Homo sapiens: one gene and its partners. The protein of the gene in region 1 purifies or fractionates together with the protein of each later gene. This does not show direct contact. Each region holds a gene or a part of one and is shown in the gene's direction. Other genes may lie near its edges. The genes, in order: CNKSR2, RALA and RLF.

Evidence for each region.
Region 2: the proteins of CNKSR2 (region 1) and RALA purify together in Homo sapiens (affinity purification with western blotting, with the first as the bait; one study listed by BioGRID). This does not show direct contact.
Region 3: the proteins of CNKSR2 (region 1) and RLF purify together in Homo sapiens (affinity purification with western blotting, with the first as the bait; one study listed by BioGRID). This does not show direct contact.

The regions. Positions count from the first base shown.
Region 1 is NC_000023.11:21,608,418-21,611,917, forward strand, and holds part of CNKSR2 (connector enhancer of kinase suppressor of ras 2), read left to right. Parts: intron 1-653; coding exon 654-1,200; intron 1,201-3,500.
Region 2 is NC_000007.14:39,703,337-39,706,095, forward strand, and holds part of RALA (ras-related protein Ral-A precursor), read left to right. Parts: intron 1-2,759. UniProt on the Homo sapiens protein: Multifunctional GTPase involved in a variety of cellular processes including gene expression, cell migration, cell proliferation, oncogenic transformation and membrane trafficking.
Region 3 is NC_000001.11:40,159,816-40,163,650, forward strand, and holds the start of RLF (zinc finger protein Rlf), read left to right. Parts: upstream 1-1,571; 5' UTR 1,572-1,584; coding exon 1,585-1,821; intron 1,822-3,835. UniProt on the Homo sapiens protein: May be involved in transcriptional regulation.

The DNA.
Region 1 (3,500 bases):
AAATTCCAGGGATAAAAATTTTCCATTTTTCTTTTATATTTATGTGCCCTGCAGTATCTATGCTCAAGGCTAATGGTAATCCCTAGCAATGTATAGTCTCATCCTGCCTAACATTTTTAACCCCATAGAAAGTAAGACCATCAGACAGCTTTTCTCTGGCACCCATAGGAGCAGACATTCTCCTATGAAGAAAAGGAAGGGTTCTTTCTGTTTATAGGCAGCCTATCCTCATATCCAAAAGACTCTCTCCTAGTCCCCAAGCCCAAGCTACATGAAATCAGGAATATGAATCCAGGGACAATACTTCTTCAGGATCTGAAAATGTATAGTTTTTAAAGTGAAATTTTTGTAGTTGCTGAATTTTCTTATGTAAGCACTAACTCTTATACTTGCATTGTTGTAAAATTTTGCATTAATATGTCAGATTTTTCATGAGACCTTGGTATAGCCGCATTCCAATACATCCATGTCTCTGTCTCTTAAAATGTAAGCTGGGGCCTAACTTTGAGATGTCTGCAAACTTGCCTAGTCATTAACATGACTACGTAAGAGTTCATCTACTTAAATATTACCTGGTAGAAACCGAATGTGTTCCTTGGAATGGAAGTGGTCTGTTATTTTGGCACAGACTAATCAGGGGCTCCTTTCTACAGATGAGTTGCGCCAGTCCTTATGTGGAAGCAAAACATAGCCGACTTTCCTCCACGGAGACTTCTCAGTCTCAGTCTTCTCATGAGGAGTTTCGCCAGGAAGTAACTGGGAGCAGTGCAGTGTCTCCCATTCGCAAGACAGCCAGTCAGCGCCGCTCCTGGCAGGATTTAATTGAGACGCCACTGACAAGTTCAGGCTTACACTATCTTCAGACTCTGCCCCTGGAGGATTCTGTCTTCTCTGACTCCGCGGCCATCTCCCCAGAGCACAGGCGGCAGTCTACCCTGCCAACTCAGAAATGCCACCTGCAGGATCACTATGGGCCATACCCCTTAGCTGAGAGTGAGAGGATGCAAGTGCTAAATGGAAATGGGGGCAAGCCTCGAAGTTTTACTCTGCCTCGAGATAGCGGGTTCAACCATTGCTGTCTGAATGCTCCAGTTAGTGCCTGTGACCCACAGGATGACGTGCAACCCCCAGAGGTGGAGGAAGAGGAGGAGGAGGAGGAGGAGGAAGGGGAGGCAGCAGGGGAAAACATAGGAGAAAAAAGTAAGTATGTTTCTGGAGATTCTTAGCCTGTGTACACAAAGTCCTGACCTTTTCAAACTTCTTATTTGAAGAAAATAGAACCTTGCTTCCCTTTTTTCTTAAAATAATAGTATTGCTATATAGTAAGTTAGGTCTCCCTTGGTGACCTACTTTCAGAACTTCAGTAACTTGGGAAAACATGATGAGTAATGAAGCTTATAATCTCAAGATACCCACAGCTGGAGCAAATAATTTTTTTCTCCAACTAGCCATTTGCCTTTTAAGGTTAATGGTGTTTTTGTTTTCTTCCTTCTCTTATCCACTTTATTCTCACTTGCATGCACCATCTCACTGGCCCACAGTGGTTGCCCCCTGAGTTGGGTTAAGAAACTATAAATGTTTCAAGCAGGTTGTTAGCAGAGCCTTGGTTGAATAACTGAGTATACACACACACCCACTCACATCTATACATATACATATTTATCTTCCCTTTTTATTGTCAGAAGATTTAAAGGAAAAATCCAAAAGATAGTTTTTCCAAGGAGAGATTTCACATAGCATTTCTTTCAACTCCAAATAGCTGAATTTGTTTCTAGAAACCAATTTTCCAAAAGCATCCATCTAATTTCTTGGTATGTGTGTTGATCGTAAAGCTCAATTTATGTGAATCAACTCTTATAAGAAAAGTCAATGAAGTAATCCTCTGCCTTGTTGACATTAAGAATATCTTTACTAGTTATTAAGTTCTTTATTCAACATGCCATACCAAGCCTCTGTTTATTACTAACATGACACATCAGTCCAGAAACCCAGGCTGGTTTAAGGGAAAGGCTGTAACTCAGTTATTTTAGTAAGAAAGAAAATCTAGGTTTGGCTACAAGTCCTGAACATAAAATGCACAAAACAAAATATATAGAAGAAATAGTATAAAACTGTTCACATCTCTTTATTCAAAATGCAGTCTGGGCCAATTAGCGCAGATAACTTGAGCAAATGGTGATGAAATCACAGTTACTTGTTTGGTACCCCTAGGGCAATAGACTTCTCTTTTTAAAAAGATGAAAGCAGAGTGTAGCCTTCAGCCCATTTTACAAATATATGGGACTTTGATTACAGAATATATTAGTGTAAGTTCTTCATCACAAATGGAAAAATATCTCAAAGTTCACAGATTACCAACAGGTCAAGAGCCCCATGTCAGTGTCAAGCTTGGCTCATTTAAAATGGTAGTCTCTTTGGAAATGACTGACAAGAAAATACAGTGGACCTCCCTTTATGGTGTGGATCTTCATTGCATTATTTAATATTATCTCATCTACCAACAAAATATAAGAATTGCTTGTAATAAAATTCATATGCTGTGGCAGTTTCCATGTGAAGTATATTTTAGCCATAATCTCCATGAGAAACATTATAAAAGGTACGTTGTTAGTACAGGAAAAGTAATTACCATTCATTACTTGCCAAGCCCTTTCAACATTCACATCTATCAGAGTTTATGGAAGAAATATTTAGGAGCCATGTTAGTCCTCTGCAGGAATTCTGGCAAGCATAATAATAATGTTTAATATTCTAAAGATTACTAAAATTAATAAATTGTCTTCTAAAATTTAAAGATGAGTTAGAAACTTCATTTCAACTGTCATTCAGGTACTACACAACTGCTGTGACTAAGTATGTGAGGTTTATTCTTTTACAAACATTGGAGAAAACACTTTATCTCAGCCATTTTAAGATAAACTGTGTTGAAATTAGGCACAGCCCTCTGAAATAGAGAATTCTGTTCAGAAAACATTTCATCATTCCTACAGGTTAAGTCACTAATGTTGTCTTGTTTTGAATAAGCTAGGCACTTAACAGTTCATCCTGGTCATTGAATAAGGGAAGAGTAGAAAGAAGCAAGCGTGTCCTAAGACATGAAGGGAAAATATGGCACCATGCTTGCTCATTCTTCAGGTTTCCAGTAGTCCACAGAGCACTTCTAGTTAGATAGCTTTCAATTTTTTTCTTCTAGATTATCTTTTTTGTTGTTTAGTGGATTGGATTTTTTAGCCAAATAGATGCACTCCTAAGTTGGTTGGGTTTTTTCTTTACATTTCAGATGAGTTTAGTGGGTAGTTATTCAGTGCTTTCCATCTTTTTCAGTGGGCTCTCTGTAGAATAATTGTTATAAGATAGAACAGACCTAGTAAGTGTGTCAGTAAATTTGGTATTGTACTTTTTGTCTTTATGGTTCAATATTGTGGGATGTTTCGTGCTATTTCAGTCAGATCTGCTTCACTGAAAGTGGCCTTGCACTGTCTTTCAGGCCCCATTTCTTT
Region 2 (2,759 bases), on another chromosome or scaffold:
GGGGCAAAAACCCATGGCTTTTATGTCATCATTGTGTTCCGTTCTGTTGCATACTTTGTGTGTGGGTGTGTGTTTTATACTTTTTTCCCTTTAACCGTTTATGCTCCTTCATGTTGGTCCTATGTCCGTTTGACTCAGCCCATTCATCTTTGATAGTTTCGTTGCTTTCTGACTTAAATTTTATGCTTCTTGCTGCAGATCAGGAATCAGCCATTCATCTAAGGAACTCAGGTTCTGTTTAGGAGGAATGATATTTAGCAGCCACAGCATAGTTACATAATTTGCTTGTTGCTATTGTGTTGTCATTTTTCAGTGAATAGTTCTAGGAAATAGGTATTATTAAAAGAAAAAAATGTGATCATGTTGTTATTTCCAATTCAAATTTAACATTACAAATGTTTACATCTTTGATTTTGTACTTGTATCTTTTCTCTTACACTGAAGATCTTGGTTCCTAAATTACATTAACATAATTCCTCCCTTGCATTAATAAAATAGTTCCAAAAGAGCAACATTGCTGTCACAAACAAACTACAAAATGAAGTTTGGCTGGGTGTTGTGGCTCACATCTGTAATTCCAGCACATTTAGAGGCTGAGACAGGTAGATCACCTGAGGTCAGGAGTTCGAGACCAGCCTGGCCAACATGGCAAAACCCCGTCTCTACTAAAAATACAAAAATTAGCCAGACATGGTGGTGCCTGTCTGTAATCCCAGCTACTTGGAAGGCTGAGGCAGGAGAATCTCTTGAACCCGGGAGGCAGAGGTTGCAGTGAGCTGAGATCACGCCATCCCACTCCAGCCTGGGCAACAGAGACTCTCTCAAAAAAAAAAAAAAAAAAAGAAGTTTAAGATTTGTCTTTGTTTTGTTTTGTTGGAATTTTGTTTCTATTTTTATCCTTAGCATCTATTCTAAAATAGATACTTTCTATGCTGTCTTATAGACCTTTGAAATAATTCCTCTAGTCAGTCTTACTTGTTTGTGTCTTGTTTGTTTGTTTTTTGAAATGGAGTCTCACTCTGTTGCCCAGGCTGGAGTTCAGTGGCACGATCTCAGCTCACCGCAACCTCCGCCTCCTGAATTCAAGTGATCTGCCTCAGCCTCTCGAGTAGCTGGGATTACAGGCATACGCCACCACACCTGGCTAATTTTTGTATTTTTAGTAGAGATGGGATTTCTCTATGTTGGCCAGGCTGGTCTTGAACTCCTGACCTCAGGTGATCCGCCCACCTCAGCCTCCCAAAGTACTGGGACTACAGGCATGAACCACCACGCCTGGCCAGTCTTAATTTATTTTAATTTGATTTTCAATTTTTAGGATTTGCTATTTTGTTTTATTTTTTATTTTTATTTTTTTGAGACTGAGTCTTGCTCTGTCGCCCAGGCTGGAGTGCAGTGGCACAATCTCGGCTCAGTGCAACCTCCACCTCCTGGGTTCAAGCAATTCTTGTGCCTCAGCCTTCCCAGTAGCTGGGATTACAAGTGCCCGCCACCACACCCAGCTAATTTTTGTATTTTTTGTAGAGACGAGGTTTCACCATGTTGGCCAGGGTAGTCTAGAACTCCTGACCTCAGGTGATCTGCCCGCCTCGGCCTCCCAGAGTGCTGAGATTACAGGTGTGAGTCACCATGCCTGGCCTAATTTTATTTTTGAATACGTAAAACACCTATGTCTCTAAAGTAGAAATTCTATAACAAGATACACTCAGAGATGCCTCACTCTTCCTTGTACCCTCCTCCCTTCTTCAAAATGAAATTGATTATTAGGGTTTGGTTTATTATTTCATTGTTCTTTGTGCAAGGGCGAACAAATCCATGTATACTCCTGCCCTACACACACACACAGGTAGCGCTCCATCTGCTATTCTGTGCCTTGCTTTTTTCAGACGCGTTAGGAAAGGCCACATCAGTCATGACATACACAGGCTTCTTTACTCACAGCACTCATTGTCGCTTTCATATTTCTTGCTTTAGTCTGAGTTTTTTAATTCTATAAGTAAAAACATTTTTTAAATCCAGAATTCAAAAGTGATCATAAAAGTTATTCCTCCTTTTATCATATACTCTCAGCCGTTTATGTGGAGTAGGAGTGTGAGTGTGTAGCCTTCCAGACCCTTCTGTGTTACAGAACAGAGGAATTTCTTATTGAAATTTAACTTTGAATTGTTATACTCGTAATTTTCTTAGTTACTATGCTAATATCTCATTATTTACCGGTTCCTAGACATCAGACAAAAACTGATAAATTCTCAAATACAGAGTAACAGACAAAGTTGTTTCATAGTGTCTGGTATCAAGATGATAAAGCATACACCCATCTTCCTCAGCTTCATTTCTAAAAATGGAACTGAGGAAACCAAGTTATGAAATATAATCAAATTATTAAATATAAATTTAAGCATATATTATTAAATATAAATTAATAAAATACATTTATTGATTATAAACTACTTAAATATAATCCATTGAGTTCTATCTTTGGGTCTGTCATCACCTTATAGAACTTTTTAGACTTTTGTCTCGAAAACTGGAACAGAAAGATCAGGTTTTATTACATATGAACATTTTTACCATAAAGTGTAATTCAGAAAACTTCCTAGTTTCCTCCTTTTTTCAAGATACTAGGAAAATCAGGCTTTAGTTTTATGCTTTCCGCTCTGTACTCCCAAACAAGAGCTCTTAAATATTTATACTTCTGTTACCCCCAAAGTTTACTGCTGTGATTTGGAGAAGTACCAAGTTCATGTATCTGTTTGCTT
Region 3 (3,835 bases), on another chromosome or scaffold:
CCGAGTAGCTGGGACTACAGGCGCCCGCCACCACGCCCGGCTAATTTTTTGTATTTTTAGTAGAGACAGGGTTTCACCGTGTTAGCCAGGATAGTCCTGATCTCCTGACCTCGTGATCTGCCCGCCTCGGCCTCCCAAAGTGCTGGGATTACAGGCGTGAGCCACCTCGCCCAGCCCGGGAACTGTTTTGGATACTAATCAAAACAATGGTTATGGCTGGGCGCGGTGGCTCACGCCTGTAATCCCAGCACTTTGGAAGGCCAAGGCGGGCGGATCACTTGAGGCCAGGAGTTCGAGATCAGCCTGGCCAACACAGTGAAACCCCGCCTCTACTAAAAATACAAACATTAGCCAGGCATGGTGGCGGACGCTTATAGTGCCAGCTACTTTGGGAGGCTGAAGCACGAGAATCACTTAAACCTGAGAGGCAGAGGTTGCAGTGAGCCTAGATCGTGCCACTGCACTCCAGGCTGGGTGACAGAGTGAGACCCTGTCTCAAAAAACAACAACAATAAACAATGGTTATATATATGGGGAATATCATTTAGTCTGTGGCTTGTCTTTGTGTGCTTTTTCAACTTGTTATACGGAAGTAACACATTTTAATACAGTCAAATCTAAATATTTTCCCTTATGGTTTGTGCTTTTCCGGTCTTATTAAGAAATTCTTAGCCGGGCGCGGTGGCTCACGCCTCTAATCCCAGCACTTTGGGAGGCTGAGGCGGGCGGATCACCTGAGGTCAGGAGTTCGAGACCAGCCTGACCAACATGGAGAAACCCCATCTCTACTAAAAATACAAAATTAGCCAGGTATGGTGGCGCATGCATGTAATCCCAGCTGCTCCGGAAGCTGAGGCAGGAGAATGTTTGAACCAAGGAGGCGGAGGTTGCGGTGAGCTGAGATAGCACTGTTGCACTCCAGCCTGGGCAACAAGGGTGAGACTCCGTCTAAAAAAAAAAAAAAAAATTCTTCCCTATTTTTGACATTATAAAGCTATTTTTATTTTCTGAAAAATGTTTGCAGGTCTTTAATCCATCTCGGCCTTATTTTTGGAAATGGTTTGAGGTAGAAATCTAATCATTTATTTCCCTTTTGGAAAAAATGTCTCATCGCCATTTATTGAAGAGTCTGTCCTTTCGCCCACTGACTTGTAATGCCGTCTGTATCATAAACCAAGTTCCCTTGATGTTACTCTTCATTTCGGCCTCACAATCTTTGCTTATTTTCCTTCTACCAGGGATGCTTTTCGCTATGTTCCTTTCAGGGCTACCTTCCTCTTGTCCCTTCAGATCGCAGTTCAAATGTCATCCCCCTCAAATCTAGATTGCTCTACAGGCATTTCTGGCTCCGTGATCCCATGACCTCAAAGGGGTCTAGGTGGGCATAGCCTCTAGCCAGTTGTTGCTAGGCTGTTGTCAGGACTGGCGATGCGTAGGCCACTGAGAGCACCCGGAGTCCGAGTGACGGAATCAGGCGGGCGCCCGCGTCGCTAAGGAGTGCGTCACAGTGCGCGGGCGGCCGGGGGCAGGGCCAGGGCTGAGTCACGTGGCTTGGTTGCCTACGCGCTGGTGGGCCGTGGGAAGATGGCGGACGGAAAGGGAGACGCCGCCGCTGTCGCCGGGGCTGGGGCTGAGGCTCCGGCGGTAGCGGGAGCCGGAGATGGAGTCGAGACTGAGTCCATGGTTCGGGGTCATCGCCCCGTATCTCCAGCGCCGGGAGCCTCGGGACTGCGGCCGTGTCTGTGGCAGCTGGAGACAGAGCTGAGGGAGCAAGAGGTGTCGGAGGTCTCATCTTTGAACTACTGCCGGAGCTTCTGCCAGGTGAGGGGCTGACTGGCTGGCTGAGGGCGGCGGGGCGGGGAAGTCAGGGAAGGAGGCCCTGGATCCTCTGTAAGCAGCCGGGTCCAAACTGAAAGGCGCCACCTCCGTGACTCGCCGCGCCCCCGGGCCGGGAAGGCCCAGCTCGGAAGCTCGACCGCTGGCCCCCCTGCGCCACTGCCCGACTTTGGCCACCGCTGGGTCGTTTTGCTCTGAGCCTTACTGAGATCCCGGAGGGCCCTGGCGGGTCCCTGGAAGGGCTGTGCCCTGTCGCCGTTGCCTGTGTCCTGGCCGGGTGGTTGGAGCGCCACTGCCCCCTGAGGGATTGATTGCTTGTCCCTGCCGGGAGATCCTTTTTTGAGTGGAGTGCAGATCTCCGAACTGGTAAACCCGGGTTTTTCTGAATAATCCAGAGAGGTGTGTTGGGGCCAGAGACTTATTTTTGGAGTTAACATCTTCTGGGCTCCTAAAAGGTATGACAGTTGGCTTCGAAAGGCGTCTAGAGCTTTCTGATTAGGGATTGCGGAGCCGGTTGGTTGTTTGGTTTTTGCTTTTTTTTTTTTTACGTTTAAGCCGTTCTTTCGTCTTTTCTGTATTTCTTTGAGAGGATTGTGCTACCGAGAATAAGGCTGACTCTTTGAGTAGAAGAGGATGGGAAGAGGGATGTAGAGTGTGGCCTCTTTTGGCAGTCGTATGATCATTTCTGTGCCTTGGTGGGTCCTAACCTATGATTACATATTTATGGGTGTGTTTAGTTTAGTCTCCATGACCACTCCGAGATTTTTCTGTATGTTTTCAAGTCTTTTACAAATACAAATATTGGCCATTATTATTTCTGCTTCCAATGTTTGTTCTGTCAGGTTTCAGAGGCACCCATCAGCTCCTTATCTGTTGTACCTTAGAAAATGCAAAATAATCGTGGCATGTTGGTACTTGGAGTCTAATAAGTAGTCCAGTATGCTGAATAAATTGCGGCGTTCTAAAATAATAATTTTGGGGGGCAATTTGCTCTGTTGGTCCGGAGTAGAATAAAAGTTAGCTTGCTTGATTGCTTTTCTTCCCTCTCTCTGCCGAGGCAGAAGCACCTCATCTCTCTGAATGGAATTTTGTCCTTACTAATCTTTTCCGTGGATTGTACCACTCCAATTTTTGTGTGTACAACCTGCAACATTGCCCTGTACTATTAAATGTTAACGTGTTGTTGTTCTCTGCTTCCTTAGTAGTAGTCATCCCTGTTTAGTAAGCTCATTTATTTTACAGATTTTTACTGACTTCATAGGATAGTGCCAGGGACTTTACCAAGTGCTGGGGAAACATGAGTAAGACAGCACTTAGCCTTGATGAACTTACAGTTGGTGGGAGGTGGTAGGAATGACAGTATTTCCAGTGCGGTTTTGGTAATGATGGAAAAGGAGGTGTTGTAGAGACAATGGTGAGGAGAGAGCCTTCATGGGATATCCTGATGGGAAAGACAATTAACTAGAAAAATAAGTAAAAAGGTTAATTATAAATTGTAGTATGTGCTTAGAAAGAAGTAACTGGGAGAGGCCACTTTAGTTAGTAAGACCCTATGGGCTGCAAGGATGAAAATGAGTCACGTGAAGGTCTGGGGTGGGGAAAGCATCCCAGTGCCAAAGGTAGAGATTGGTAAGGACCCAGAATGCTATGGGAGGAGGGGAAACTAATGGAAGGAGAGGGGTGGTGCAGGAAAACAACTGTGGGTTTTGGGTAAGGCTTCTAAGCTTGAGTTGTCTCCCTGGAAAGATGACAAGAATGAATGTAACCAGTCACATTGAAGCTTGTCAAAGGATCACATATATATGTATTCTGCTTTATGTCTAGTGCTTGCAACTGCAGTTTTGTTTAAGGTAATGTTTTAATGTCTTGAGTCTTGGTGACACCAGAGATGTGATGGCCCAGAAGAATTTTTAAAAGAAAGCATGTGTAATTTGTCTTTTCTATGAAGTTTTTTTTAACCTAAAATTTTCCCAAAAAATGTTTTTTAGACTAATAAATG